Linked DNA regions of Homo sapiens: all the other regions are reported to be linked to region 1. The links are microRNA targets in miRTarBase. Many come from high-throughput screens and were not tested one by one. Region 1 holds a microRNA gene; each other region holds the end of a gene's coding sequence. Distances are from middle to middle.
Evidence for each region. Region 1 holds the annotated microRNA hsa-miR-548bb-3p (CAAAAACCAUAGUUACUUUUGC, at 2,122-2,143, shown strand). A microRNA usually pairs through its seed, bases 2 to 8, with sites in the 3' UTR of a target mRNA and lowers its output. Matches are read on the target gene's strand: a 7mer-m8 pairs with bases 2 to 8, a 7mer-A1 pairs with bases 2 to 7 and ends in A, and an 8mer does both.

Region 1 (4,507 bases):
GACTTTAAAAAAAATATTTTGGATAACAGTTCTTTATCATACATGTTTCTTGCAAATATTTTCTCCTAGCCTTTGGCTTGTCTTTCTCAGTTGACAGTGTCTTATATCAAGGAGACGTTTTCAATTTTAATGAAGTCTAGCTTATCAATGATTTCTTTCATGGATTGCACCTTTGGTATTATATATAAAAAGTCACTTTCATGCTCAAGATCAGCTGAACTTTCTTGTACATTATTTTCTAGGAGTTCTATGGTTTTACATTTTACATTTAGGTCTGTGATTCATTTTGAGTCAATTTTTGTGAATAGTGTGAGGTCTTTGTCTAGATTCTTTTTTTTTTTTTTTTTTTTTTTTTTTGCATGTGGGTATCCATTTGTTCTAGATCCATTTGTGGAAAAGACTATGTGGGCTTTCTCTTCTGTTTCACTGATGTATTTGGTGGCTTTTGCCAATACCACACTGTTTCAATTACTATAGCTTTGTTCTAACTCTTGAAGTCGGATAGTGTCAGTGCTCCTACTTTGTTCTTCTCATTTAATATTGTCTTGCATATTCTGAATCTTTTGCTTTTCCATGTACACTTTAGAATCAGTTTGTTAATATCCACAAAAAATAGGTTGCTGGGATTTTCATTTTCTTTGTATTTATTAGGCAAAAATATTCCTTTATTTACATTTTATTCACATTTAGTTTTTTATGCGCACATTTAAAGGACTTTATTGTAAACAACGACAGTGATTCTAGAACAGTAGATAGCTTTTTTAAATGTAATTACTCTTGTAAGAGGAAAAAATACATGATACTAAAGGATTGTATTTTGTGACCACCTATAATGCAACAAATCATCTACTTAGTTGCTATGTTAATCTTTGCTGCTGTAACAAATTATCAGACTCAGTGGCTTCAAACAACACAAATTTATCATCCTGTGGTTCTGTAGGACAGAAGTATGATACTGGGCCCACTGGGCTGAAAAGGTACCAGCCGTACTGCATTCCTTTTTGGGGCCTTTAGGGGAGATTCTGTTTCATTGGCTTTTCAGTTTTCTTTGTGGCCCCCTGCATTCTTTGGCTTATGGTCCCTTCCTTCTTCAAAGCCTCCTTTTCACCTCCTTCAAAGTGGTCAAGTCTGTCTTATACAGCATCATTCTGACCTCTTTTGCCTCCTTCTTCCACTTTTAAGGACCCTTAGCATTATATTAGGTCCACTCAGATGATTCAAGGTCATCTCAAGGCCCTTAACTTAATCAAATTTCAACTTAATCACATTTGCAAAATCTTTTTGCATAACATATTCGCAGCTTCTTCAAATTAAAACGTTGACATCTTTAGGTGTGGCCATGATTCTGCCTGCCACAGTAGAACTTGTTTTCAAAGTAATCAGGTTTTGCCCTCAGCAAATTAACGCAGGAACGGAAAACCAAGCACCACATGTTCTCACTTACAACAGGGAGCTGAATAATGAGCACACGTCAACACATGGAGGGAACAACACACACTGGGGCCTGTTGGAGGGGTGCTGCTGGGAGGGAGAGCATAAGGAAGAGTAACTAATGGATGCTGGGCTTAATACCTAGGTGATGGGATGATCTGTGTAGCAAATCACCATGGCACTACCATCTCTACAGCAGCACAGCCTGTATCAAATAATGGTATGTTGGAGTAATTCAAACTGGAAAATAGGTAGCTAGGAGGACTGCACCTGAGCATATCAACCATGAGTTTCCATAAACCTGTAAAACAAAATAGCCAAAGAATTATTACATATATATATCTGTGGTTAAGAAATCATACCCCTCCTTTTTGAAAGGCCCAAATTCAAAATGAAAAGATACCACTACATTATATGACTGGCTTTCAAAAATTCCCCAGTGTTCTGCTTAACTTTTTAAATTTACTTTGTATCTTTTTTTTTTAACTCCAGAGTAGAAGAGTGATGCTTGATGTCCTCAAGTTACAGCCAGCATTTACTAATTCTTTGATTTGACTTTATAAAGTACTTATGCTTGAATCCAGAACCCAAGGATTTTTCAGTTATCACAAATTACTTTCACAGAAGGCTAATTTATTATTCTATGAGACAATCCATTAGATTGGTGCAAAAGTAACTATGGTTTTTGCCCAAAAACCATAGTTACTTTTGCACCAAGCTAAAATATTCTTCTCACTAAACTTTTTCTCTGCCAAAAGATCACATCTGGATAACTTTTTTTCCCCACATCTGGATAACTTAAGGCAAGCTTTTGTACCTCTTCTTCAGTACCTCAGAGAGAAAACAGCTTCTGTTTGATATTTGTGTAGTTTGTTTTGGCATAGTCATTGGAAAGGTCTAGGATTTTGGTTCCTGGACCACATATTAAAATAGCAATTCCCTACTGTTCAAATTGAAACTTGCCTGTAAAAATTCAATGTTAGTTTTTACCTGCTTGGTACCCTGAATTAAGATGAAAGGGTTTTAAAAAATCATCTTTCTTACAAAATCTGTGGGATCATTGTGACCCAATGAAAAATATACTTCCTGCAAAACTTTAACCATCTGTTTATTCAGATCGAGACTATTGGAAAAGGTACAAGGGACATTGGTCAACAATCAACAAAGGCATTTACAGGTAAATCCAGCTGAGTAGAGGAACTCATAGAATCCCTAAGTTTAGGTTTTCATGGGACAAAAGAAAGCATTCAGGAGAATGGCCCAAAATATTTACAGTATCAAGATCTGATATCATAATCCTTCATAGATCCCATTGTTTTGAAAGACGTTCAAGAGTGTGTGTTATAGCTTTTAGTTATTTTGATATGATGCTAACAATCACTTCTTTGCTAGCTCCTTTGGAACGAAGAAACATCTTCAGGTCCTGCTCATTGGGAACATTCTGTTAAAAACTCCAGGCTGTCGTTTCTTTGCCATGTCAGTATCCACTTCCATAGTAAGTTATTCAGTGGTTCCTCATTCTCCAAAGCTCATTGTCTGCATCGTTTCACTTCACACCAAAAAGCCTAAGTGAAACTGATTTGAAGAGCATTTCTGCTGAAAATCAGGTCATCCAACATTTTGAATTAAAGTGAAAGTTCTCATATACCAGAGATTTCTTGGTGCCATAATAGTCAGGTAGCCCAAACCTTTCGGAATGCTGTGTGCCGTAGATGGCTTTTACTTTGGCTTGGGATTTTTAAAACTGAGGTTGCATTGAATGTATAGGTCAAGTTGAGAAGAACTGATATCTTGACAATATTGAGATTTCCTGTCTGCGTATGTGGATAGCTTTCCTTTTTCTTAGATCTTTTGTATTTCTTTCAGCAAAGTTTTATAGTTTTCCTTATATAGATCTTTCACGTTTGATTTATACCTAAGTATTTAAATTTTTGGCATTAATGTAAATGGTATTGTGTTTTTAATTTCAAGTCCCAATTGTTCATTGCTAGCAATAAGAAGACAATTGACTTTGTATATTAACTTTTGTCCCACAAGCTTGCTATGATTGCTTATTAGTTCTAGAAGTGTATTACTTGTATAATTAAAAAAATTTTAAAAAAGAATCAAAGAGTATGGAGGAGAAACTTTCAGCACACCTGTGCACATCATAATCATTAAAATGTGATGAAATATGTTGACACCAGGTGTTGCTTTTGTGAATTTCCTGTAGTGGCTTAGAATCACTTTTGCTTATATTTTCAAATGTGAAGATTTGTATAATAAATTAAACTGAACAAACAAGAAAACATCTGGGGTGAGTTTTTGTAACAGGTGTTGTGTAAATAGGTCTTGTGGATATCCAAACAGGTGACACTACCTAAAATATACACACATGTTGGACTCAACATGCACAGAAACAAAGCATGTGGAATAGAAGAACCTAGACAATGGTAGTCCCAAGAATTGTGACCTAATGACAAGTGATATTACTGACAAGGGTGTTAATAACTCATAGACAGATCAGAGTTTCGATAAGGAAAGCAGGGACATCTCTCAATGTACAGCAATGAGGAAGACTTCATTTGTGCACATTTGTCTGACTTCCAAAGAACAGTTTCTTTATCTCTTTTTCTTCCACATCTCACTCTATTCTTATTGGTAAACTTCACTCGAACCATCCAGGGAAGAGTATTCTGGGAAATGTAGTTCTTGCCATCAGCTTTGCAATGCAGAGAGCTTAGATGGAGCCTTATCTTATGGAATCATATTTTATTTGAATAAGACTTCTACAAAATGTCTTTTTCTCCTACTGGATTACAAGTTTCTTAAAGGTTAAGATTGTTTCTTTTATGTCTGAATATATCTTGCAGCATCTGGCAGAGGGTTGTACACATAGTAGGTATTACTCAAATATTTGCTTAATAAATTAATGGATGATATTACTTAAAGTACTGTTATGATCAATGTAAGTTACCGCATAGGTGAATTGGACCATCACTTTGCTCTGACGAATGGCTGTAACTAAAATGAATAGCCAATTTAAATTTCTGATTTATTAAGGCCTTTTTACTGCTGTTCTTTTACTGTAATACTC
Region 2 (4,507 bases), not on the chromosome of region 1:
TGGGCTCTCTATCATTATCTCATTGCACACCATAACTTCATATGCTTATTATACCTGCACTTAAGAATTACATGAGTTTGGATAAGCAGAGACTGTAATAAAAAAATAATAATTACATGAGTTAACTGTTTACATCTACCATATTATTACACCGTGATTATACATTCCATGAAGAGAAGGACTTTATTCTGTCTTGTTCACCGTTGTGGCTCCTGGGCCTTAAGCTTATGCCTGGCACATAGAAGATACTAAATAAATCATCAATGAATGAATTCTGTTAATTGGTTTTATATATGGTTGAATATAGCTTTGAATGCTTTCACACTCTTGATAGCTATGTTAAATTACAGGGCTTAAGGCTGGGCGCGGTGGCTCACGCCTGTAATCCCAGCACTTTGGGAGGCTGAGGCGGGCGGATCACAAGGTCAGGAGATTGAGAACATCCTGGCTAACACGGTGAAACCCCGTCTCTACTAAAAATACAAAAAATTAGCCGGGCGTGGTGGTGGGTGCCTGTAGTCCCAGCTACTCAGGAGGCTGAAGCAGGAAAATGGCATGAACCCGGGAGGCGGAGCTTGCAATGAGTGGAGATCGCGCCACTACATTCCAGCCTGGGCAACAGAGCAAGACTCCGTCAAAAAAAAAAAAAAAAAAAAAAAAAAAAAAAAAAAAAAAAAAATTACAGGGCTTATAAGAAAGGTATGTAAGCAAATTAACTGGGCAATCCACATAGATTTTCATAACTTAAAGCAATTTCATAGAAGGCATAGTATGTAGTAGTCTTTTAATATGCTAAGTGCAACCATCTTTCTTAGTGAAAGAGAGGAAAACTAGAAATTTAACACAAAATAACAAACAATAAAAGCACACAATGTCCAGCTGGGCACAATGACTCACACCTATAATCCTTGCACTTTGGGAGGCCGAGGCAGAAGGATCGCTTGAGCCCAGGAGTTCAAGACCAGCCTGGGCAACACAGCAAGACCCTGTCTCTACAAAAAATTTAAAAATTAGCCAGGTGTGGTGGCACATGCCTGTAGTCCCAGCTACTCAAGAGGCTGAGGTGGGAGGATGGCTTGAGCCCACGAGGTCAAGGCTGAAGTGAGCTGTGTTCACACCACTACACTCCAGCCTAGGTGACAGAGCAAGACCCTGTTTCAAAAATTGAAATACATAAAAGCACACAATGCAATACTAAAACAGAAAGCACCATAATCTTTTAAATAACTTGATTTTACAGATGGCAACTTGCATTATATTAGAGTGTCTTTATATTTTTACTTTTTTTTTTTTTTTTTTTTTTTTTAGACAGAGTCTTGCTCTGTCATCAGGTTGAAGTGCAGTGGTGTGATCTGGGCTCACTGCAACCTCTGTCTCCCGGGTTCAAGTGATTCTCCTGCCTCAGCCTCCTGAGTAGCTGGGACTATAAGCACGTGCCACCACGCCCAGCTAATTTTTGTATTTTTAGCAGAGATGGGGTTTCACCATATTGGTCAGGATGGTCTCAATCTCTTAACCTTGTGATCCGCCTGCCTCTGCCTCCCAAGATGCTGGGATTACAGGTATGAGCCACCGCACCCAGCCTATATTTTTACTTTCTTAGTTACATTTAAGAGGTATCTATTCAAAGTTTACCTAAACTCAAAATATGCTCAATATTTGAAATGTCATACTTAGTCAATATTCACTTAATTTCATAATCCTTTCCAGCCTCCAAATGAAAGGATTTTAACAGTGTGTATCTATTCAATGAATACACAGTTTTGCTCTTTGTAGCAACATCCCAATACTTCATGACCAAATTTGTATCAATTAGAAGGGACAGTACTCAAGCTGATAACTTATTTATCTCACATTTATTGAATTGCTACAGAAGGAAATCATTAAAATATTTAATGTATAAATCTAAGGTTGCCTCCTAGGTCCAAATGGATTTAAATGACACTTTTTTTTTCATTTTTATAATTAGTAGAAATATTTTATTGTAAAGGCTGAATATACTAAAATGCTTGGTTTTGTGAAATCTGATTTTCCAACTGTAAGTTACAAGCACTTAGGAAAAAAGCAATCACTTAAATGAAAACTAAAAGTATAAAGCCTATGTTTAAAACATGGCCTTTATTAATACTGCCCACTGAGCTCCATTTTTATTTTACATTGAGATACTTCTGCTTTGCAAAGAAAAGACAGAAAAGTGCATTTTACAAGAGTACTTTTTTTGTTTTTAATTCTCTGAGAAAATGGAATCTGAATCACAAGTTCACAATGTAGTAAAATGAAATTAAGAAACAATGATTTCAGTAATGCTATGCCATCACTAGTGTTTAGCTCTGACTTTTTCTTGTAAATCAGATCCTGATATACAGTCTAGAGCATCTAGGTTATTATTCTACAGCATATTAAACACAGAAAAGGAGGTTTAAAAAAAAAACCCCTTTCAATGTACAAACATGAATTTAAAAACTGCTTTTATAAAATCACCTTTTTACATAATGTATATGCAAAACTGCTTTAAATACATGATTTTGGAAGAATTATTTACAAAATCTATCAGTCTGTGGAACAATTCACAGACAAAGCATACATAGTTGCTTTACTTAGTTGTTGCATCTCAACTTTGGGAGATATAAATTCATTCGGCAGTATAGCAAACATAAAAACTGTGACAAAGTATCTTAAGGGCAACCAAAAATTTGATCCTCAAAACAGTTTAAATACTAGGACTGCCAAAGTTTCTAAACAAGGACATACTTTAATGATCCAGATGCCCATTTATAGTTCTATACTGTTTGATGGACTGAGACAGACTCCCTTTAACACAGGCAAGGCTGCAGGATGCAACCTCCTGTAAAAAGGACAGCTGAGAGCTATTGTCATCCAAAGAGTGAATTAACCTAGAATTTTCTTTTTTTAAATTTTATTAATATTTTAAAAAATACATAAAAATACAACATCCAATGTCTGAATAAATATATTTAACAAGTTGCAAGATAATACCTTATTTTACACAAAAATTTCAGCTTTAGAAATCTTGTTAAATAACTTCATTGTTGTTATATATTTCATTTTTGTCTTTTTGTAACAAAATAAAAACTCTGAAATTACATAGAAAAAAGACAAAATATTTTTGTCAAGGGATAAGATAGTCCACTGAAAACTTATTCACAATTCCACTGTAAACATTAATAAACATTAAAATATTTGCATAATTTTGTGCTCAAAAATCCTATAAAAAGTGGAAGACTTATTACAACTGTAGTTTTCAGTCAACTACACTTCCTTTCACAATTTATTTTGTCCCATTTACACCTTCAATCCTGGGCACACTGCTGAACATATACTTTGGCAGTTCTAAATAGCAAGTGCTTCCACAAAAATAAAAAAAACGATAATGAAAAAAAACACAACATAAACCCCCTACTCACCAAGTGTTCAAATACATCTTAGTGAAAGTGCAGCAGTAACTATTCAGCTGGGTAATATTTTGATGTTTATCATGTGCACTTGCTTGTCTACGATTTCTGTAACACCTGAAAGCTTTATTATACAAATTCAAATTTGCTAAGTGCCCTTTGTTCTATATCACAACAAACGAAAAACAAAAGTAAAGAGGAAAAATTATGACAAATATGGCAGGCTGCTTAACCTTCACTTATTAATCAGCTTATTTTTTGCAACAAGAAAAAAGAAGAGAGAGGGGAATAGATACAATCCAGCCTGGAAAAGTATACAGGATATACTTAGCAATGTCAAACCAGTTGAGTGCTTTCTGTGGTTGTAATTCAGGGTTTGGGGATTTATGTCCATGGCAGCAAACTGCTGGGAAGGTAGAGAAAATGTTTATCACCTGCATTCTACAGCAAGTACATTTTGTGGGGGAGATGATGATGAGGGACTCATTCCAGTGTCTGATGAAGCAGATGACATGGAGGCTCCCGCATGAGACACTGTGGAATCAAAACAACTATGTTAGATCCAAAAACTGTTACACAAAGATACCCAGCTAACAGCAAATTAGAAATAAAATTCTTAACATTATTCACCTTAATCACAGGCCTCTTATATGTCACATGAAGGAGTAACAAATTGTCAGCAAAAATTTTGTTTGGCTCAATTAAGTGGAGTTAGTCTTTGGTCAGTTAAGCACTACTCAACACTTAAAAATACATCATAAAATGTAAAGATTAAAGAGACAAAAACTCTTAAACCTCTAGTTGGGAGATCCCATGAAGGAACTTGGCTCAATCAGAAACAAGGTCAACCTGAGATAAACATGGAACCATATGGAATTTCTGCTTTATCTATGGGTCATAGGACCGTAAGAGAATTAATTTAACTCAGAGGATTTCCTCTGACAGGTATCAGAATCATGGAGATCAGGATCAAAGTAATGATGTGTGATAAGCAAAAAGTCCTCAAATGGTTTTAACATAATTTTCTCCAGGAGGACATAACACAGATTAGGGATCGGTACTCTGAGCATTAGGTGTTTTGCCACTTTTTAAGT
Region 3 (4,507 bases), not on the chromosome of region 1:
CACAAAGTGTTGTACTTTCTTAGGAGGATCTTTAGAAAACCCTGCCTCCCAACCTCCTATTGGATGGTGAGGTTTAAGACATCTATCCTGTTTGACTACTGTCCTCACTGGTGTTTATTAAATAAAATAAATATAAGTAAAACTAGTAATACAAGTGGTAAAAGTCTTAAGTAACTAGCAGATATTCGGAACAATTGAGTAGACAAAATTGAATTGGGGAAGAATTTTCTAAAGTTCTGGGTCTTAAGGGCTATACCCTTATTCATGGTGCTTTAATAATGGTTTTATTTTTGCATTTATTGAGTAAGATTTTATGTTTTCTATTCCCAGTTTTTGAAATTGACAAGCATAACATTTATGAGTTTATGCTTGTTTAACAAATCCTGTTGTTTTATTCTCAGTTTAAAAAATAAGGGTGTAAATACATCTCAAAAGTGTACAGATTTCTCACTGAGTTTGTTTTAACCTTTGGGAAACCACAATAGACCCTGAAGATATCCATAATTTTTACCCAGTAAATTTTTTCTTTATTTAGATGATTTGCAGTTTTAGTATTTACTGTTGTAATTAGATGGTAATCTTAAAAATGCATTGCTAACTTCAAACCATATTTAAATTATCAGTAGCTATGTATATATAATCACATGGAGGTTGTAGCCTTGCCTTGTATGATTAAACAGAGAAGAAAGGTGGTATTTGTTAACATTTCTGTTTTTTACATGTATCATTCTTTTATCACATCTCATAGGTGATAGCATCCTATTTTTTTCTTTATTTTCTTGGGATTCAGCCCAAGTCTGTCTCCAAAGTCCATCTTCTTTCCTACTGCTCTACTACACTGCAGAGAAATAGGACGGTGAAACTGAATATATATGTATGTACTGTCATAAAACTGGTTATAATGCGTTCTTTTTCTCCCCCCAATCTACCTTTTCTTTTTCCCCAGAATCCAGATTATCTTCAGTATTCTATCAGTACAGCTCTCTGCAGCTTAAACTCGGTGGTACATAAAGAAGATGATGAACCCAAAATGATGGACACTGTATAATTTGGTTAAGACTGCTGAGGCCAAGTGCTATTTTGTTACAAGAAAGGAAGAACTTGGCTATTTTCTTGACACTTTTATGGGTGCTGCACTTTATTTTTGTTCGGTTTTTGATGGGAGGGAAAGAGTACTGAAATGTTTTGTAAATTTTTTTTAATGTGCTGCTAGGTTTTTTGTTTTGTTTTGTTCTGAAGAGAAGAGTGGTACCATATGTTGCAGGAAGTCAAACTGGACTTTTTGTGGCTACTAAATTTGCTTTTAATCTTATTGTTCTCAATTTTGGAATCAAGTATGAAAATCTGCACAAATGCAATGTTTACAAGAACTGGTTGATTCTGGGAGGCATCTGCTACAGTCTCTTTTTATATGGATATGTACATGTCCTATTCTACAAAAATGATTAAAGATAAAAACATACTTGTATCCCACTGCTACTTTAGCTGTCAAATTTGGTGTTTCATCACATTAAAAGCAATAAATCAGTAGTTGGTAATGTACTTTACTAAATAAGTTGGGGGGTACAATTTTTAAAAGTCTTAACTCTTAAATACTTGACTTTCGGCACCATCAGTTAAATCCTTGACTATAATACAAATTTGATATATACATTACATTTACCCTCAAATTATTCTCAAAACTATATTCCTTAGAATTTGATTTTACCCTGCTGACTTTAAGAGTTATAATAATATCAAATGTGATGAGCTAATATAGATTTTCTTTTTAAATAAGAATAACTTCAAGCTCACTCTTTCTTAACATAGTCTGGGATCTCTCAGGGAGTAAGTTTTAAAAGAATACTAATGGCTTGTAAGAACAAACAGGAATAATAATCTGATTTTTAAATTTGTAGTTATTTTACTCATGTTGCCTTTTAATTTTTGTTATTTTGGTTTATTTTTTGATGTAGCCTTTTAAAAAAGGAGTCTTAAAAATGATTTTTTTTTTAAAGGCAAGAGAAATCTTGTAGTGCTAACTGCCTTGAGCTGCCAATTACCTATTTCTGAGAATTTGGTGACTCTTATTGGTAATGATGGCATTTACAACATTTGGCATTTCCCCTTTTTCAGCTCAGTTACCATAGAATACTTCCAAGCTTTACTACTTCCTCTGTAAGTCATTTCAGTTATGCCAGGATATTTGATGATTTTGTTTATGTAGAATTAGGTAACAAAGCCAATTATGCTATCCTTATTATTGAAGGATTAATCTTATGACTTAACATAAGCTTTGGTTATATTTGGGTGTAGTCTTTGGCTAAGTACCCATTAAGGCTAGTAGCAAACACTTGGAAGGTGGCTAACTGGGACTGGGAATACGTGTCTCAACTTGAGAAACCAAATAGTGCGAAGGGACTCAGGGTGGCCAGACCTGTGACCTTGGCCTCATTTGTATCTTGTTTTCGCTGAGGTGATCAGACACTTAGTACCCTAGAAATGGACTGGAATTATTGAATCTTCTTCTGTAACATCACAATCTTCCTGGTTTTCAGAATAAACGTTTTTGTGCTTTTGATATAAATATATACTCTATAATAAAATGTTTGACTAATTTATATAGTAGTGTTTGTCAGCCTGTACTTTTTTTTTTTTTAAACCCATGACCTAGTCGTAGACATTTTTTTCTTTTTGTTCTGTTCTGAAGCAAGCTCTTATTTTTCCCTTTCTACCAAATTGAGAGAATGGGCAGACACAGGAGCCATATTCCTAGTTTCACAGAAATGTTACTTGAATTATTATTTTCCCTTCTTTCCCAGGATTTGCCTGTAAGCATTCAAATTGTTTTGAATTTCATTTTGCCTTCTCTAAGTTAGAGGTATTTAATGACTGAAGACTGGCAGGAGAGAAAGTATCAACAAACTGAGTAAACTATTCTTGAGGGGCACTGAAAAGATGTTCTTTGAAACTTGATTTATATATTTTTACTTGCAAAAGAATATACTGTGTTTTGAGTATGAAAGTGTGATTGGGTCTGTTGTGGGAACCACTGACTGATGCCATAATTTGCACTTAAAGGCTATAAATTACATAGTTAGCCGTACTTTAGTACTAGAAACAGTAAATTGACATCCTTGAACTAATTCCTACCTTTTTTTTGTTTCTGAAGAAATAAAGAGTATATTAAGCAAAGGGATAATTTATATTTCAGGTTGGACAATTTACCCTAAACAAATTAAACCATGGAAAGTGCAAACACATGAATGAAACATTTTTTTACATCAAAGTATCATCAAAGATTCTTGTTTCATTTGATAAAATTAATATTTGAATAAAAAAATTTTTAAATCAAATAGCTGTCCATTTATTCTCTGTTAACTCAGTGTCATTTTTTCAGTGGTAGTGAAGATAATACTGCCTTAAAATTATTACTCTTAGGTAGATGGGTAACATTCTCTTCCAATTATACCATTAGTGAGCTCTTTCAAATTTTGCCTAATGAGCTCACAATCTCTTATAACTTCTCTTTAGGAAAATCAGGTCCTCCTCTTCTTTCAGACTGGCATATCATATTATTACCCTTTTAAAAATGAATGAACAGCCGGGCGCAGTAGCTTACGCCTGTAATCCCGGCACTTTGGGAGGCCGAGGCGGGTGGATCCTGAGGTCAGGAGATCGAGACCATCCTGGCCAACATGGTGAAACCCTGTCTCTACCCAAAATACAAAAATTAGCTGGGCATGGTGGCGCGTGGCTGTAGTCCCAGTTACTCAGGAGGCTGAGGCAGGAGAATCGCTTGAACCCCGGGAGGCAGAGGTTGCAGTGAGCCAAGATGGCGCCACTGCACTCCAGCCTGGCAACATCTAAAAATGAAAATGAACATGCTGCCCAAAGAACATGAATCTGTTTTAGTAAGTGGATTTTCTAACAGGATGAAAAAAGTTGACTGTAGGTTTAGGCAAGGTGATCCTGAAGTTAACCTTTGGGTATTTTCAGAGGAGAACGAAATGTCAGTTTACTTTTCTAAGTCAATCATGTATTTCAGTTCTTAAATTGGTGTGGGACAGAACCGAGGTACTTGTCTGGGTTGAGGTTGGGCTTTCCATTTCATGGGCTTTCCATTTCAATTTTGCCATTATAGCAAACATACTTTTAACAAAACCCTTAAATCCATCCATCTCTCATCTGTAATGGACATGTATATACAATTGCATAGTTCTGAGAAGTTGATTTATCTGAAAATTATTTGCTCACTATGTGAGCCAAGGGGGTCGGGAGGGGGACACAGGGTGAATATAAGTTCATTATGGATTGTTCACCATCTAATATGAAGTGAAACCATTCTCATAAGCTTTGAAGAATTAGACTTGTTTGATCTCTAAATATAGAAAATGATTATTAAAATTCCCACATCTTTCACACAGTTAACAGCATGATTCTTCATGTTATTTACACATCAGACATTTAACTTGGAATGCTTTAGAAAAAGATGACACAGTGCTGGACTGATTTACACTTAGGCATG
Region 4 (4,507 bases), not on the chromosome of region 1:
TGTCTGGTAAAGATGAATATACTCCAAGTTCCAAAAATCCATTCCTGGTACATATCCTAAAGGTAACTCACACAAATTTAGAAGGAGACGTATATTTTAGTGTTCATTGCTGCATTGTTTTGTTTTTAGTAGACATGGGGTTTCACCGTGTTGGCCAGGCTGGTCTCAAACTTCTGGCCTCAAGTGATCTGCCTGCCTCAGCCTCACAAGTGCTGGGATTACAGGCATGAGCCGCGGTGCCCAGCCTCATGCTCCACTGCTAATGATAGCAGAAATTTGATAATCTCTTGGCCAGTAAGAAAATGGATAAATGAATCATTGTATAATCATACAATGTTTATTATACAGCAGTAAAAAAAAAATCAATGAACTAGAACCACATGGAATATCAACATATGCCAGAATGAATTTTGAGGAAAAAAATTGCAGAAGGATAAATACAGTATGATGCCATTTCTTATAAAGTTTGAAACTATGCTGCATATTATTTACGTATCCATAAATGTGTAGTGAGTATAAAAATATGTATGGCAAAACAAATTTTTTTTAAATGTATGGCAATGATAAATACTAAATTGAGGATGGTGGTTATTTCTGGGGAAGGAGGGAAGGTACTGGTCTAGGAGAGTATACACAGCCATCCACTTTTCCTGCTTATTAAAGAACTCTGGGCTGGGCGCAGTGGTTTAAGCCTGTAATCCCAGCACTTTGGGAGGCCGAGGCAGGTGGATCACAAGGTCAGGAGGTTGAGACCATCCTGGCCAACATGGTGGAACTCCATCTCTACTAAAATACAAAATTAGCTGGGTGTGGTGGTGTGCGACTGTAGTCCCGGCTACTCGGGAGGCTGAAGTAGGGGAATCACTGGAACCCGAGAGGTGATGGTTGCAGTGAGCCGAGATTGCGCCACTGCACTCCAGTTTGGCAATAGAGCGACACTCTGTCCCAAAAAAAAACTCTGGCCAGGTGTGGTGGCTCACACCTGTCATCCCAGCACTTTGGGAGGTTGATACCATTAGAAAACATGAAGACAGTAAATGAAAAAATGCAGGGCCGGGCGTGGTGGCTCATGCCTGTAATCCCAGCACTTTGGGAGGTTGAGACAGGAGGATCACCTGAGGTCAGGAGTTCGAGACCAGCCTCGCCAGTGGTGAAACCCCGTCTCTACTAAAAATATAAAAATTAGCTGGGTGAGGGCTGGGTGTGGTGGCTTACGCCTGTAATCCCAGCACTTTGGGAGGCTGAGGCGGGCGGATCACGAGGTCAGGAGATCGAGACCGTCCTGGATAACACAGTGAAACCCTGTCTCTACTAAAAATACAAAAAATTAGCTGGGCGTGGTGGCGGGCACCTGCAGTCCCAGCTACTTGGGAGGCTGAGGCAGGAGAATGGTGGGAATCCGGAAGGCGGAGCTTGCAGTGAGCCGAGATTGCGCCACTGCACTCCAGCCTGGGCGACAGAGCAAGACTCCGTTTGGTAGGCTGAGACAGGAGAATCACTTGAACCCTGGAGGTGGAGGTTTTGGTGAGCCGAGATCATGCCACTTCACTCTAGCCTAAGAGGCAAGAGCGAAACTCCATCTCAAAAAAAAGAAAAAAAAAAACCTCTAAGTCAAGTGGGGCTAACTGTAAAGGTATATTTTTTATACCTTTTATCTTTTATATGTTTGAAATATTTTGTAATGTTTTATCAGGAAAAGTGGAAAAGAAATCCAGATGAAAGGTAAAGGTGTTAGAGATGTGGGCAGTAGATTAGCACGCCTCAAAGAAGAGTGCGGGGAAATTGCCAGTCGCCAAATCACTCATTTCTTTTCATTTTCTTGTAGCTTGGAGGGACGGTTTGAAGATGAGGAGCTGCAGCAGATTCTTGATGATATCCAGACAAAGCGCAGCTTTCAGTATTAATCTCCAAACATCACTGCTGCTCGGAGAAACCACATCCCCAGGCATAACACCACCTTCCCACTGTCTGGGGCTGACTTGCACAGAAATTCTGTTGAAGACAGTTGAGAATTCCTTTGGAGAAAACAGCCCAGCTTGGCGTGGGGTTAGGTTGCTGTTTCAAATAACTCACAGGCCCAGGTGACATGGAATCTTGGAGCAGCCTTGTGCAGTGGCAGCCAGTGGCTTCCTGAACGTGCCTCTGCGAAGTGTGAGATGAGGGGTCACATAACCACACTGTTGACTACCTCATTCCTGGTTTTTGGCCTCCACATCATCTTTTTTCTTAATATTTCATGTTTTAATTTCAGGGTGTTTATACTTTTTGAAACTAGACCAGAAGATAGTAGACTTTATAGAGAAAGACCAGTTTTACCTAGATACTAAAGGAAGAATTAAACCGCTGTTAGTTTGAAATGCTTTTTTTTTTTTTTTTTAAATGGAGATAGGGTCTTAACTCTTGTCCAGGCTGGAGGAGTGCAGTCGTACAGTCATGGCTCACTGAAGTCTTGACCCCGCTGCCTCAGCCTCCCAAATAACTGGGGCCACAGGTGTGCACCACAACTCTCAGCTAATTTTTAAAATTTTTTATAGAGGTGGGGTTTTACTATGCTGTCCAGACTGGTCTTAAACTCCTGGGCTCAAGTGATCCCCCTGCCTTGGCCTCCCAAACTGGTGAGATTACAGGCATGAGCCACCACAACTGGCCTGAAATTCTTAAAGGATGGGAGTGTCGATGACAGCACCTTGGCATCGTTGTGCCTAACCTGGGAGACGGAAGAAGCACGCCATGGGAAGTGTTTACACTTGGGGACAAGTGCTAAGTATTGTGGAGCCCATAGCCCCTTGAGATAGATGGCTACTTTGCCTTTCTTCTTGAACTGTCTTGCAGAATGTGGATTTGGGGTAAGTGGTCTTGAAGGATTCATTTAGTCACCCTCAAATTAAGATTTTTACTTCATCTTTCTTGGGCCTGCACCTCCAAGATAACAAAGAAGAAGCAATGGTCGTGCCAAAGAGGTCCACAACCAGGTGTGCACTGTTCACTGCAGCCCATTTGCTGTATGAACTGTGGTTGTTGTGTGCCCAATGACAAGGCTACTAAGAAATTCATCATTTGAAACGTAGAGGCCGCAGCAGTCAGCGATGTTTCTGAAATGAGCATCCTTGACGCCTGTGTACTTCCCAGGCTGGATGTGAAGCTACATTACCATGTGAGTTGTGCCATTCACAGCACAGTGGTGAGGAATTGAGCTCATGAAGCAGGCAAGGACCGAACACCTCCACCCCAACGTAGACCTGCAGGTGCTGCCCCATGACCTCCACCAAAGCCCATATAAGGAGCGGAGTTGTTAAGGACTGAAGAAAAACTTCTCTGGAGAAAAATAAAATTGCAATTCTACTTAAAAAAATTTTTTTTTTTTTTTACTTCATAGGCCAGGCTTGAAGTTCTGAACACTTTGAAGTCTCCAATTATGAGAGATCCAGTCTAAGCCTCTGGCCTGCTAATTAGCAATAAGTGCTTTATTTGGAAGGAGGGAGTCATCCACTCTTGAGCCACTGCAGTGAAGTCACTTGATCTCAGTCTGGGGGAAAACACTTCAATAGCTAAACATTCTAGCTTTGATTTTTCTGAAGGGAATACACTTGTTTTCAATTTTGGGGTTTTTCTTTGGGGCACTTGCTTGACTCTGTATGAACTTGTGATCCAAGGAAAAAGGAGAAAGAACAGTGTTGGCTTTTAAAATCAGGATGGTTTTATGTTTGCTACGAAATAAGGCAAGAATAAAAAATTCTTATTTTTATTTATTTATTTATTTTTTGAGATAGAGTCTGGCTGTGTTGCCCAGGATGCAATGGCGCAATCTTGGCTCACTGCAACCTCTGCCTTCTGGGTTCAAGTGATTCTCCTGCCTCAGCCTCCCAAGTAGCTGGGATTACAGGTACCTGCCACCACGCCTGGCTAATTTTTTGTGTTTTTAGTAGAGACAGGGTTTCACCACGTTCGCCAGGCTAGTCTTGAACTGACCTCAAGTGATCCTCCCACCTCGGCTTCCCAAAGTGCTGGGATTACAGGCGTGAGCCACCGGCCAATCTTTTTATCCTTGAGCAACTTCGCTTCTTTGAGCCTCATTGGTGTTCTCAATTGTGAAATATGGATAATAGTATCTGCCCCATGGGTATTTTGAGAAGGTTGAATGAACAGGAAATTATTACAAAGAGCCTAGAGGTGTCTGATATATAGTATGTTCCAGTAAATGTTCACTATTCTTAGCATCTCAGGCAGATGAGCTAGTATAGATAGATGATTAAGTCAGCTTGCTTCATAGAAATTAGTGCAAGAATTTGTTAGCCTACCAACTGATAGTATCAGACTTGGAAAATAAATGAAATTGGGCCAGGCGTGGTGGCTCACCCTTGTAATCCCAGCGCTTTCAGAGGCCGAGGCAGGCGGATCACCTGAGGTTGGGAGTTTGAGACCATCCTGACCAACATGGAGAAACCCCGTCTCTACTTAAAATACAAAATTAGCGGGGCGTGGTGGCGCATGCCTGTAATCTCAGCTA
Region 5 (4,507 bases), 98 Mb from region 1:
AAGATATAAGTGGGTGACTGAGAGTTCCTATGGCTCCAGCTTTCTTGTCCTTCAAGACTCAGTTTGATTGATTTCTTCCATGAAGACTTCCTTAATTTTCTAACTTACAGTAATTTCTCTCTTCTTTGCAACCAAGTCCTCTCCTCTGCCACTAAGTACTATATCTCTGACATCATTTACATGTCTGGGCTTCACAACTAAGCCTCTTGAGGGCAGGATCTCTACTGGATTCAGGTATGCATCCCCCAAGCACATCTTACTGTGCCCAGCATGAACTAGGTACTCAAAATGATATTCATGAATAAATGGGTAAATCTGACTGTAAAGAAGAACTGAGATTTCTCAAATAAGTAGATGGTAGGTCACTAATTGCAGAGTAAGTAAGGTTTCTTACGACCTTGGCAGGGAAGAAGAGCAGGGAAGGCTGAGGAAATCGCTGGAACGGCAACTATTGACCATGGCAGCTCAAGCACACACATAAACACATTCAAGTTGGAGTGTAGCAACTATTTGTTCCACATTTCACTAAGATGTCTATCATGTCAAATGTTCCCTTGGCATAAATAGCAGAAGTTTCTATGAAGGGCTTTCTTTTATGTCATTTTACTGAAAAATCAAAGTAGGCAGGTCTGCAATTAGTATCCTCATTTCACATGTTAGGATGCTGAAGCAAAGGAGGTGAATGATTCAAAGTATTCTGTGCTCATATCTTTAGCTCTTTGACTCCTCATAACTAGAGAGTGCCAGGAAAAATGCTCTTATTTCATTTTCCTTGAGAATATACTTACTTGTCAGAAATGAAAACTCAACCTGTATTATCAGTACCCATCATTTTGTAAGAAATCAATGTTTCGTAAAACACTTAAGGTCTCATGTATGTCCAAATTATTATCATTAATCAAGTGACATGAAAGGAATTATTCTGTTTTATAGACTCACCATATAAGGATATTAAAGAAGGCTAGCTTGAATTAGGCAATATGTTTGATCATGTTCTATGCAGTCCTTTTTATTAAATTTGATTTGGCTTGTGTGGTAATATTGTGGTCTTTGATAGGAATGCAGGTAAACGAAGTTAATAATATATAAAAATGAATCATGTTGAAAACTAGGGAGGAAGGAAGTAGTTACCGAATTCCTGTAGGGACCATAGTTTAGTTCATTAAAAAAATTTGATTTTCGGCCAGGCATGGTGGCTCATGCCTGTAATCCCAGCACTTTGGGAGGCCGAGGTGGGTGGATCATGAGGTCAAGAGATCGAGACCATCCGGGCTAACACGGTGAAACCCCGTCTCTACTAAAAATACACACACAAAAAATTAGCTGGGCATGGTGGCAGGCGCCTGTAGTCCCAGCTACTCAGGAGGCTGAGGCAGGAGAATGGCATGAACCTGGGAGGCGGAGCTTGCAGTGAGCCGAGATCGCACCAATGCACTCCAGCCTGGATGACAGAGTAAGACTCTGTCTCAAACCACCGCCCTCCCCCCCAAAAAAAACCCCAAAAAACAATTCTGTCACAGTTCAAGCTTCTGTATTTGGGGTACTTGCCACAGAGGAACACTGGTATTAAATATAATTGAAGTAGACCAGATTTTCACTGTTTTATAGATAAGGAAGATCAGGGATATTGAGAAAACTGCCTAGCCCAGGTCCTCTGGAGAATCATTAGTGGCCCAAATGATAACCCATATTCTTGCCCAGACCACTAACATATACTTTCCAATAGGGTGATAGTACTTCTATAGTTTATAAGTTATACAAAGTATGAAATAAAAATATTTCATAAACTGTAACCCCTTTTTAAGTCACTAAAATTGTATACATCTATGTTAAAAACCACACAAATCTCGGTTCATTTGGGGCACTTTTATTTACAGCCAAGGAAAAAAGAAAACTAGCATCTATTTAGAATGGGAAAGCATGTTTGTATGAAAACAAATATTTCATCATCACTTATTTTCTATACTGTTTGCAACTAAGTTTTACATTTTTCATTTTCAACAGAGATTTGAATTTTAATGTCCCAGAAATATAAAGAAGATGGCATTAAAATGTCCTATATGTTGGCAGTCCTACCCTGAAGACTTTTTTTGCTTATCTTTTGTTCTGAGCTACAGTCTTCGCAGAGACTAAATTAGTGACTGGACAACAGAAGAAAATAGACCATCCTGGCTAAAATGGTGAAACCCCATCTCTACTAAAAACACAAAAAATTAGCTGGGCATGTTAGCGGGTGCCTGTAGTCCCAGCTACTCGGGAGGCTGAGGCAAGAAAATGGCGTGAACCTGGGAGGCGGAGCTTGCAGTGAGCTGAGATCGCGCCACTGCACTCCAGCATGGGGGATAGAGCGAGACTCCGTCTCAAAAAAAAAAAAAAAAAAAAAAAAAAGAAAATAGAAACGGGAAATATTCATGTCAGCTGTTAAAAACCAGTTTTGTAAAGCAAGGCCTAAAAGTCCTATCTCTGGCATGTTTAGTATGGAACGTATAGTTGATTGTCATTCAGCTACTAGAGAAAGGTATTCTACAATGGCAGATAGCCTTATCAAAACAATTAGCCGGCTTTCTCCACAGGGAATAGCAGTGGGGTAAGTAAGACTGAAGTGAGAGCTCTTATCAGTTTTCTCAGAAATGATTTCTCCATCATAGGTATTTGGCCAACTGGTTAGGTCTAGCATGAACATGTGATTTCTAAAACAATGAGCTGAGATCTGCTAACATGTTGTAAAGGAGCATCTAGTAGAAGCTGATCTCTAAGCAAAATCACCAATTTATTTAAGTTTCAAAAATTTTTTTTCCATAAATATGTTCTTTAACATGCACATTCTGCTTACATTGTTTAGGGTGCTTTTTATTGTGCCTAAAAATTTGCAATATGGTGAAATAAAATATTTAAAAATGGTTGAATACCATACGGAAGATGAAATCTCATATTTATAGCATGTAATTCAATTCTCATGTATGCATAATTAATCAAAATTGTGTCTTTAAATGACATCTTGACATTTTTTGAATTGCACTAAGAAACACTAGTGTCTACCATTCATTTTAACAGACTTATTTATGTTTAGCTTTATTAACAGTATAACATTTTCATGCAATCTTAAATTTTGTTTTAATTTTTACAATGTTTGATTTAATTCAAATTAACAAATATTCAAGCCTACATGAGAGACAAATGAAATGAGACTACCTTTATATATAATCAGCAAAATTCTTTTTAAGAGTAAAAAGTTAATATTGGGATTTAAAAACCTAAATTTCCAATGTTACTGCTGACAATCCAATCCAACTATATGTATATTACTTAGGCCACAGGACTGCCCATTAGTCTTTCTTGTCGGAGAGCAATTAATCTCTTGAACCATTTTTCCTCAGCATCAGCTTTCTCGATAAATAACTGAAATAAGAAAAGAAAAAGAAAAAATGTTACTGTCTCCCAATAACTTGAATTTGACCTAAAATGACAGAACTCACCTTTGTAGAATATATCTCTCAACACAAGATTTGGATACTGTTTAACTCTTGATGACCTCTTAATTGATGACTATCTATTTGGAATTAGTAATGCTCAGAAATTCTTGGAGTAAAAGAACTACTAGTATCAACATCATTGCTTAACAATTTTGTACCTTATATTTGTGAAGTTTATTTCCTATAACTTTTCCAAAACAGCAGAATTACAACATTTCATGGAAGACAGCAAAGTATGATGTTAGTGATGTGCTCACTGATAATGAACAAAGTAGAGCTCAGAAATGGAACTTTTAGTGCTAGATTTTTAAACAAACACTTCTCATGGTGCTGATCAATTCAGCTAAAAAAAAAAAAAAGGAAAAAATGCTTCTCTTTGTCTATTTTTCTTAACCATAGACAGAATACTTCTACAGGTTAGGCAACATGAGTTGGACCCTACTGTATTCAAATATAGATAACAGTTCTAAAGGCCTGGGGGCCAGATGCCTATTTTTAGCAAGGGAATATGAACCTGTTTCCTCCAATGGTCTCCTTGGTGTTAGCACAAAAGGATAACAGATTGAAATAATTTCAGTAAATTAGACTTCAACTGACATTCGTAAAGTTTAAGGATATTACATTTGGATGGGCCAGGGAATTGTCATCTTGGTACTTGATAGCAGTAGGGATGCTGGTAGGATCTATTTCTTTTTCAGTACTGGGTGGATCAGCAACTGCTGATGCTGGTCCTGATGTTGAAGTTGCTTGTTTCACTTCACTAGGTTCCACTGACTGAAAGAAACAACACATATTAATTTCAACACAATACACAATTAGAGTTTTACTTCAAAAATATTTCTGATTTTGAATAACAACTGTTCAATTAGTCTCCTTTGAGATGATACCCATCTCCAAAAAGGCCCTACTTTTTGTATTTGTTTGTTTTAGAAATACAGTTATTTTATTTTTATATTTGTTTGTTTAGGAATAACTATATTTAGGAATATAGTTATAGATATATAGAAATAGAATATAGGAATAACTATATTGTA
Region 6 (4,507 bases), not on the chromosome of region 1:
AAGAAACCAAATAGATCCTGCTTCCCCCTGTCACACAACCATCATCAAAAGACATATGAACAATAATAAAATAGTAATAGAAGTTCTTACTCTGGCAGAAATAGCTAGTGTTGTCAGAGGGCGCAGGGAGCTGTGAGTTTTGCTTTCAGGAAAAGTGTTCAAACAGTGCTGACTGTGTACCTCAAGGCCCTCTGACCTCAAATTAAATTGGCTGTCAAAGACTTACGGCCCATGGAGCTCCCAGGTGACAGTGTCAATGGCGCTTTATGTAAGTTCTTTCCAGATTGATGAACCAAGAAAAAGGTCAACTGAATCCTTATGCTTAAGGTTTACAAACTCAGGAGAGTTTCTTGTATAGTAACTCTAGTTTCTTGTTTGCTTATTTCTTTGTCTTCCCCACCACAACTAAGATGACCTCCGAGAAGTACCCAGGCGCCCCTGGGGTTCTCTGCTGGGCTTACAGTCTGATTGTGCAGGTAAAGATCGTGTCCTCTCACCGGACTGCATCCTCCTGCCTTTGCGTCTCCAGTGTCTGAGAAGCACGGTGTGTGCATTCCTAGGTGTTCAGGGACCGTCCAGTGAATGGCGTCAGCCAGCTGCCCACTGATGGGATGGGCCAACGACGTGGCAGTTTGCACTTGAGTGTCGGTACTTCTCACCCTTGACCGCCTCCGCCCCAGTGCGGCTGAGACAACAGAGTAAAAAGGTTTGTGGAGAACACTGACGAGTACCTTCCACTTCCAACTATGGCTTCTTCAGCCCCTCCTGGGAGCATTCTCCCTTGAAGATGTCAATCAGTATCTTAAGCGTTGGCTTTAAAAGTCAACTTGTGCACCTCAATCAAAATTGAGAATTAAGGAAAAGGCCAGGGAGACCATCTTCATTCTGCTTCTGCTGGAAACCTCTAAAACTTTCTGACGAGGCTCCCACACGCCCTGCCTGCAGGAGCCAGCATCCCGAATCTCCGAGCAAAGCCAGGTACAGGGTTTGCAAAGTCTAAACAGGACTATCTTAAGACTTCCCAGCGTTACAGAGCCAGGTTCAGCATCTGCAAAGTCTAAATGGGACTATCTTAAGACTTGCCAGTGTTACAGACTGATTTCCAAGAAAACGGAGGCTTAAAAACTTCCAGCACAAATTTCTCCTCCACCTTTGAAAACACAGAAACTCACTCAATGAATACGTCAGATTTGCTCAATCTTTCTGAAATTTTTGGACAAAGATCCTATCCTTAACTATTCACTCAATACATCTTTTCTGCCGACCTTTTCCCTCTGGCAGAAATGGCTGAATCAGATAGAGAAAAGTACTGCAAAACTGCAGAATCATAAGACAAAATAGATGTGGTGTCAACAGCCAATTAACCAGTACCTGCAACGTAAAGTCATTCTAGAACATTTTAAAAGGACAACACAAAATACAAAAGCTTATCAAGAGTGCTCCAAAGGCAAGGGACTATCTGATCCTCGTGTCTCCAGCTCTCCAAGAGCAGGAGTTAGTAGGCATCAGAAACCAGGCTGTGATGTACATCTCTGAAGCACACAGAAGTAGCGCCAGGCAGAGGGTTTGAAGGATATGTATTCATCAAGAAGTAAACGCAAATCCAAGATCTCAACCACACTTGGCTCTTAAAGATCCACCAACTTAACCCTTATGGCATGCATATGTGGCTTCTGCAAGAAGCAACTTGAAAACCCAAGAATGCCTTGCTCTACCACGTCCCGCGACTGCAAACTCCCTTCCTCTGAAACAAGCAGCCACAGCTTTATAAGAAACATGCCGGCATGTAGTCCATCCTGGGAGGGGAGAAATCTTCACCACTGGCTGCCTTTCAGCAAGTTCCCCTTGAAATCTGCCGGCAGTGGAACAGATCCCAGATCCCAACGCTGTAGCTTGGGCGTCCTCCCACCAGGGGTTCCTTGTTCTGAAAGCTGCCACCAGTGTTGTTCCGAAAGATGCCTCTGCCTTTGTGGGGTCATCTTCCATTATGCCTCCTAACAGGAAACAGGCTTCTATGGAAGAGAAGAGTCCCAGCCCCCTGACCTTTCCGCTTTGGTCTTGGAGGATCTGAGTCACATCTGCCATGTTGCCTAAAGAATTAGTTGAGTCTCTTATCACACTGTCGACACATTTAGGGGCCATTCAGTGGCACGTTTCCTGCTAAAACAACTCTGCTGAAAATGTCTGAGGTCCTTCTCAAACAGCCACTGGCTTTGTGATTGTTACCAGGTCCCAATAAAGCGGGATCACACCTCTGAAATTCTTTTACGAGGTGGCAGGTGAAGTTAACTCACACACTATGGATGCTGAATCAGATCAAGGATAACAGATTGGACTTAGGACACTCTCTCTCCCTCTCCTCTCATTTACTGGTTACGATCCCAGGAATCCAGTGTAACCTGGATAAGCAGGGCTGGCTGGAGACGATACTGAGCATTTCCGAATGGAGATTATTGTGTGGATAACTTTTTACCAAATGTCACTGTCTTTTCCTCCCAAACCGACACCAAGAGCTTTCTATTTTTCTGACACCTCTTTGTAAGAGCAAGAAAGACATAAAGAGTACATACACATTAGGACTCTTTAAAAACACACACACACACACACACACACACACACACACACACAAGCCTTCTACAACCTTCAGCTACACAGAAACTTTTATCATGTGACAACAAAATTCAAGTCATAAGGAAGCTCGCACAGTGACCCATATAAATCTCCCAGCTGAGCCACCAGCTTTAACATATTCATATTCACCTAAACATGAAGAACGAGGGGTTCAGACAGGCCCAGATGGGTCTCTTTCAGGACCCTCCCTCCCGTTGATGCAGCGTTAGGACTCCGTTTAGGCGCAGAGCCACTTCCCATTAAAACTGCATGTGTTAGCAATTACTGCAAAATCCACAGGTGGCGGTTAATATAAATGGAACTTGAGCTCTGTCCATCAGGGAAGCGCCAAGACCAGGGCCCCCTCCAGCGAACGCACGGCCTATGATGTGAGCTTTGAGTAGCTGGGGGGAGAGAACCGTCTTCGCAGGTACTTGAGGACATAGAGGGGGAGGCAGCTGACCAGAGTGATGACGGAGACTTTCCACAAGAATGACAAGGTGGCGATGAAGTACACATCTGCAAGGAAAGGGGAAGACGGCAGTGAGCAGGCAGGAATATTCCGGAAGGTGCATGGGGTCCAGAAACAGGCGTCACAACTATCAAAGGGAAAGTCATCTCCCGTCACAAACCCACAGCCTCCTGGCATTGGCCCTCTTTCTCCATGGACTGTAAGGGAAGGTACCATGGCTAAGAGCACACAGCGCCGCAGCTTGATTTTCCTCGCTCTCTCTTCTGTAGCTTCCTGACAGTGAAATGCTACTTTTAACACCCAGGAGAAGAAAACTATGGGGGCCACCAGATGCAGTGGCTCATGCCTTAATCCCAGCACTCTGGGAGGCCAAGGCGGGCAGAAGAATTGAACCCAGGAGTTTGAGACCAGCTTGGGCAACACAGCAAAACCCTGTCTCTACAAAAAATACAAAAACTAGCCAGGCATGGTGGTACATGCCTATAGTCCCAGCTGTTCAGGAGGCTGAGGTGGGAGGATCATCTGAGCCCGGGGAGCTTGAGACTGCAGTGAGCCAACATTGCACCACCGCACTCCACCCTGGGCAACAGAATAAGACACTGTCTCAAAAAAAAGAGAAAAAAAGAAGGAAAGAAAATTACAGGGGAAGAAAACTCAGAGATGCTTTTGATTTGGTGTTGTCTAACAGTTGGAGAGTCTTTCTAAGTCCCGGCCACTGGCGAGCAGAAAATGACATTCAAATGCACCCTCTGCTTCCAGTGATGGTCGCAGAAAGCCACAGGATGAGTCTGGGTCATGGTGCAAAGTGTTCAGACCCCCTTGTCAGAGAAAGGCTTAAGCTGACCCTCAGGGACTCTGATGGAAGGTGGGGGGGGCGGGCGTACTGCCTTTCCTGCTGCAGGATTATAAACCCGGTTATGAGGTTTTCTTAAGAGAGGAGTGACAGTTTGTGGCTTTCAATATAGCAGAAGCCAGAATAAGCCCCTTCTCCACTTTCTGAGCACAGGATGCTGAAATGCAGCTGCCACTGAGGCAGCACCTACTAAGTGCCAGGCCCAAGGCTCAACTCACCCTGTGGTTTTCCTACACCTCTGACCCGGTCCTGTGGTGTGTCCCTATCACAAACAAGCTGAGCTTCCTGAGCAGGGGCCACATCTCTGTGACCACCTCAGGCCCAAGCCTTTGAGCACATACTAGGTCTCACAAAACGCTTTCTAGAGACTAGTGACAAGGGTGAAACTGCTTTAAAACTCCACTGTTCACAGGGATGCTCCTTTAGTTCCTGGAGCGCACAGTAAATGCTCACAAATCCTTTCTAGAAACTGGGGCTGCAACTGTGAAACCTTTACTTTTCAGGGGATGTTTCTTTTACCTTTACTAAAACCTTCCTAAGGAGCTTTGGAAGCTGGCAAAAGAGCCGCGATC
Region 7 (4,507 bases), not on the chromosome of region 1:
CAGTCAGTAATTTTAAGAAAAACTCTCCTAAAACTATAGATTTAAGAAGAGTTTAAGTCTTTATTGACTAAATGTCAAAGTCGTTTTGTAGAAATCCCTATATCTTAGAAATACAGGAACTTAAGTTATTCAGGGAGTCTTTTTGAAAAACCTGATTGACCTTTACCTACGACCAAAAGATGGATGAAAATTAATAGGTGGATTCATAAAACAACTGGTAGAAAAAGAGTGGCCTGGTGTCCCCACGGTTGTTAATACCAGCTACGCTGCATCAAGGTCCCACTGTGGGAGCTTTCTGTGTGTTACCATCTAGCCTCGCAATGCCTCGAAAGGTGGGCACCATTACCGCCCTTTACAGATGGAAGGCTGAGGCTTCAAAGGTGAAACTTACCCAGCACCACACACCTGAAAGCTGGGTCCAGTGCCCGTTTTCCAGCCTGTGTGCCAGTGTGCACCCTAAATGACCTTATACCATGAACTGTAGCCATACAGTCACCTCTATCTTACTGCAGCTAAAAGAAGATGAGATGTTGGGAAGTACAGCAAGGATCAATTACCTTTTTAAATACGAACTATTTGAAGTTTTCCTACTGAACATAACACTATAGTATACGGCATCTCTGTGTATCACTAAAACAAATTTTCATTTAAAGAATTATGAGAATCCTAATCCTCTTAAAATTTATTAGCTGAATCTGTAAGTATGTGCAAATTCTTTTCCAATAGGAATTTTCTAGTTCAAATAGAATCCCCAGGTTAATTTTTAAAACTCCATTGTATTTAACCATTTTTTTTTCATACTTGGCAGAATAAAACATCCTAAAAATCTAAGGAATTTTTCAAAGTCATTCTAAACTGAAATGTTTAGAATTCCATTAAGGTTAGTTTTCAAGAGGATCAGCCATTTAACTGCGAAATTCTGGGAAAGTATCTGCATATTTGTGTGGTTTGATTTAAAAAAAATGAAAGCATCCAAATTTAAAGTGTCTGGAATGTAGGGGGAAAAACCAACAGATTCAAAGTGATTATCCTTGATCCTTGATGTCTTTTCAATCCACTTCACCTGAGGGCAAAGAATTTACTGCCAGTGAAAAGCTTTGATACGTTGAGAATTAATTGCATAATTAGCCACAGAGTTAGCAATATGTGGCCCAGAAAGGTATAGCATGACTTTAACTAAACATCACATTGTGTCTCATAATTCTCTACAATTTGAATTTTCAAGTTTTAAGAACCCAGTGGGATTTGAGGTGAATAAAACTTGATAATTCTTCCACAGTAATACTATCTGCTTAGCCTCCCTAAAAATATAGCTTATATAGATTTTACATCTAAATCTGTATGTTTTTGTATTTTTATTGTTATGCTTTCTCTTGTGACAATTGTTAGAGAAATACATTGGGCAATCACTTTTTAAAAAATGATTATATCTTTGTAATCATTAGTTTCATCAATTTATTTTTTCATGAGAGAAGTCAATATTTAGAGGGTCCAAAAGAAGCTAATAAAATTACTTGATTGTTTTTAGGAGATATTTACAAACTTAGCTCATTCCTTTAATGAGAGAGAAAATATCACAGGGAAGTAGAAACAACCAGTGGCCTCCCCCTCCAAAAAAACCCCACAGATTATAGATAAAATTACTAAAATTACTCTAAGAATTTGTCTTATTTTTAATGCATGGAAAATAGCAAAATTATCATGCCAACATGAGGAATATATACTATAATTCATAAATGCCTAATTATCAAAATAATGACATAGTCATGGTTAGATGCAACCTAGAAATCTTATATAAGATGCAACTACATATTGTATGATCATTCCTCTTATATATGACATTCAATCCTCATCAAATTCAGCTATGTATAAATGGCATTATGAAATAAACACTTAATATCACAATAGGGTCATAGTCTGCTACTGTACAACCATGGCATGCAAGTAACTATGCATTAGCTGTAAACAGTAAAGTGTCATAACCTTCCAGAAATCCAAAGAATGTGAAAAGTACATATATAGTACTAAACATCAATTGTATTTAAAGGACCTTCATATTTAACAAAGCTATATCATATACAGCAGCTTTGGAGATTTCTGTCACTGTTATACATATCTTGTCACCCTGAAGTGAGGAAACTGCAATTCCAAACTATATCTGTTAATGCTACTGAGCTTTAGTGAACTGTGGTCAGTATTAGGATGTAAATGATTCTGTGTTCTAATGTGAAGTATGTTTTATTTTTCCTTTCTGCCATAATTCAGAATTTTGAGTCACTAAGAGTGTGCTGACTGTGGGCAACCATGGACATATTTTCTAAACCACAGACTTTTTCTCAGGACATGGATGCGCTCGTGTTGGGAAGAAGACTCCTGTTGATGCTTGCCAGCCAGTGCTCTTCTCTACTTGTATTCTAGGTGGAACAGTTGGCAGGAAGGAACTCAGGTCATCTTGAGAGATGTCGCCTCTAAAATACATTTTGTAACATTTGTAAAAGGTAGTTAAAATCTAGCAGCTAGGAGAGGAAGGGCAAAGAAAGATCCATTCTTATAAAAATGCAGATGGATCATTTAGGTCTGATCCAATGATTCTTAGGCAATTAAAAATTATCATACTGGAGCAGAAGCTTGTATGCTGTAAAATAACCATTTCGGCTCTTTTCAGGTTGTGGTATTGGAGGCTGTTTTTGGAAGGAGGGGAACAACTGATCGCTGGACAGACTTTTCCATGCTCTATCAGCTCTGATAACGAGTTAGGTAGTTGGCATGGATGACAGGAATGTCCTCTACACTGAGCATTCTAATAAACCCCCTGTGAAGTTGCACAGAATGAGTTGAACTCATTCTGGTCTGCATTCTAGTTAGGCGGAAAGCTGTCACATTCTCAGACTGAGTTTGGACACGATATGGTCATATGAAATATTTAAATACATTACCTACATCCTACTACATCAAAATCTTGCCTTACCTTTACAACGAGATAAAAGAGCATTTAAAGCCATTGCAATGTGTTCATTCCCTGTTCATACACAGGTGATTCAAGTTTGCTTATGAGGCAAAAACTGTACAATTCTCATCATTCAGGCATTAAAAAATGTCTTTCTTTCAAGTCTTGGGATATAAACAGTTGATTTATATGAATTACATATTTTTCATCTTCATTAAGAAACAATATACATCTTTTTCCAGAGTAATTTAATGTTAGCTATAATAAGCCTAAGATAGTGGTAAAAACTGACTTTATCACCTGTGACCATCAATACTTTTATAAAACTCATGAACATTCTTTGGCCACCTGGGTCATTGTCCATTTGGAAGGAAACTGTACTCAGGCTCTGGATGATACAGAGATCTGCCTCCATAAAATCCAAGGCCATAGAACAGCTTTAACAGAAGCCCGAAGTAAAACAGTACAGAATATACAGGAGCGGTTTCCATTTCTCAGACACAAGTTCCTTGACGTGTTGAAAGGTGTTTTCGATTCCGGACTCCAGAAGTCTTATCTTTACTATCTGAAGCTTTCTGTTGTGAAATATCTATTAGGGCACTGGCAATTGCAAGGCCTGGAAGGAAAGAGAAAAGCATTTAAATGCTTGCTTAGACATTTCTGGGATGGCAACAGTGGTGGTGAAGGGCCCTGCTTTTTATTGCTTTTCATTTAGTCATCACACGTTTGGCTGTTAATGGAAGTTTTCAAGTAGTTTGCCCTTTACCTAAAATGTTTCTTGACTTGGGCATGTGAACTTCACCAAGGAAGAAGAAGAAAGATCTAAGAAAGTTAACTGACTCTGACTTGGAACAATCAAATCAGTGTTTGACAAATGATCACATTTAGTTGTGCATATGACCCTAAACCTTCCTCTCCATGTCTGAACACGAGTTTGCTGTGGAGGTACTAGAAATTTTAAATGTTACTATTTTTTTTTTTTTTTTTTAGGAACAAAACTAGTCATGTTAAGATTTTTAAAAACATTTCAAGCAGTTTTAGATTTACAGAAAAATTGAACCAATATTGAGATAAAATTACCAACTGAAGTCCATAATTTACATTAGGGTTTACTTTTTCTGTTGCATAGTTCCATTGGTTTTGACAAATGCATAATGCAGGGTATCCACCATTACAGTATCATACAAAATAGTTTCACTGCCCTAAAATACCCCCGCACTTCACCAATCTATCCCCCTTTCCCCAAGTCTCTGGCAACCACTGATCTTTCTTTAATGTCTCTGTAGTTCAGCCTTTTCCAGAATGTTGTATGGTTGGAATCACACAGTACGTAGCCTTTCAGACGGTCTCCTTTCACTTAGAAATATGTATTTAACGTACCTCCATCTCTTTTTTTCTTTTTGGCTTGATAACTCGTTTCCTTTTATTGCTGAATTATATTCCATTGTGCGGATGTGCCATAGTTTGTTTACGCATTCACTACTGAAGGACATCTTGATTGTCCTTGCTTCCAATTTTTGGTAATTGTGAATAAAGCTGTTAAAAACATCTGTGTGCAGG

Region 2: miRTarBase lists ARID4A as a target of hsa-miR-548bb-3p. Seed matches in the 3' UTR shown: 7mer-A1 at 3,088-3,094, 7mer-A1 at 2,655-2,661, 7mer-A1 at 2,458-2,464 and 7mer-m8 at 2,427-2,433.
Region 3: miRTarBase lists CDC37L1 as a target of hsa-miR-548bb-3p. Seed matches in the 3' UTR shown: 7mer-m8 at 1,151-1,157 and 7mer-m8 at 1,213-1,219.
Region 4: miRTarBase lists POLR2D as a target of hsa-miR-548bb-3p. Seed matches in the 3' UTR shown: 7mer-m8 at 2,198-2,204, 7mer-m8 at 3,604-3,610 and 7mer-A1 at 3,916-3,922.
Region 5: the mRNA of RSRC1 is a reported target of hsa-miR-548bb-3p. Seed matches in the 3' UTR shown: 8mer at 3,248-3,255, 8mer at 2,423-2,430 and 7mer-A1 at 2,199-2,205.
Region 6: miRTarBase lists ATP9A as a target of hsa-miR-548bb-3p. Seed matches in the 3' UTR shown: 7mer-A1 at 2,585-2,591 and 7mer-A1 at 1,120-1,126.
Region 7: the mRNA of ATRNL1 is a reported target of hsa-miR-548bb-3p. Seed matches in the 3' UTR shown: 7mer-A1 at 3,229-3,235, 7mer-m8 at 1,615-1,621, 7mer-m8 at 1,003-1,009 and 7mer-m8 at 146-152.

What each region holds. Positions count from the first base shown.
Region 1 is chr3:60,615,451-60,619,957 of GRCh38, reverse strand. MIR548BB (microRNA 548bb) reads left to right here and starts at 2,088; the gene lies at 2,088-2,153. All of the region lies in intron 4 of FHIT (fragile histidine triad diadenosine triphosphatase), which reads left to right. It also overlaps the pseudogene MTERF1P1.
Region 2 is chr14:58,371,326-58,375,832 of GRCh38, reverse strand. ARID4A (AT-rich interaction domain 4A) reads right to left here. Exons shown (of 24, transcript NM_002892.4): 24 at 1,957-3,947. The coding sequence ends at 3,844. All of the region lies in intron 1 of TOMM20L-DT (TOMM20L divergent transcript), which reads left to right. Among named protein-coding and RNA genes, the nearest start is that of TOMM20L-DT, 22 kb to the left of the region's middle.
Region 3 is chr9:4,705,065-4,709,571 of GRCh38, forward strand. CDC37L1 (cell division cycle 37 like 1, HSP90 cochaperone) reads left to right here. Exons shown (of 7, transcript NM_017913.4): 7 at 947-3,335. The coding sequence ends at 1,048. It overlaps AK3 (adenylate kinase 3), which reads right to left. Exons shown (of 5, transcript NM_016282.4): 5 at 4,492-4,507. Among named protein-coding and RNA genes, the nearest start is that of CDC37L1, 28 kb to the left of the region's middle.
Region 4 is chr2:127,845,504-127,850,010 of GRCh38, reverse strand. It overlaps POLR2D (RNA polymerase II subunit D), which reads left to right. Exons shown (of 4, transcript NM_004805.4): 4 at 1,826-4,507. The coding sequence ends at 1,904. It also overlaps the pseudogene RPS26P19. Among named protein-coding and RNA genes, the nearest start is that of POLR2D, 10 kb to the left of the region's middle.
Region 5 is chr3:158,543,075-158,547,581 of GRCh38, reverse strand. RSRC1 (arginine and serine rich coiled-coil 1) reads right to left here. Exons shown (of 10, transcript NM_001271838.2): 9 at 4,095-4,247; 10 at 1,852-3,399. The coding sequence ends at 3,307. MLF1-DT (MLF1 divergent transcript) reads left to right here. Exons shown (of 5, transcript NR_104147.1): 5 at 2,005-2,362. Among named protein-coding and RNA genes, the nearest start is that of UC.134, 19 kb to the right of the region's middle.
Region 6 is chr20:51,598,219-51,602,725 of GRCh38, forward strand. It overlaps ATP9A (ATPase phospholipid transporting 9A (putative)), which reads right to left. Exons shown (of 28, transcript NM_006045.3): 28 at 1-3,129. The coding sequence ends at 2,993. Among named protein-coding and RNA genes, the nearest start is that of NFATC2, 58 kb to the left of the region's middle.
Region 7 is chr10:115,943,714-115,948,220 of GRCh38, reverse strand. ATRNL1 (attractin like 1) reads right to left here. Exons shown (of 29, transcript NM_207303.4): 29 at 1-3,563. The coding sequence ends at 3,442. Among named protein-coding and RNA genes, the nearest start is that of SNORD158, 250 kb to the left of the region's middle.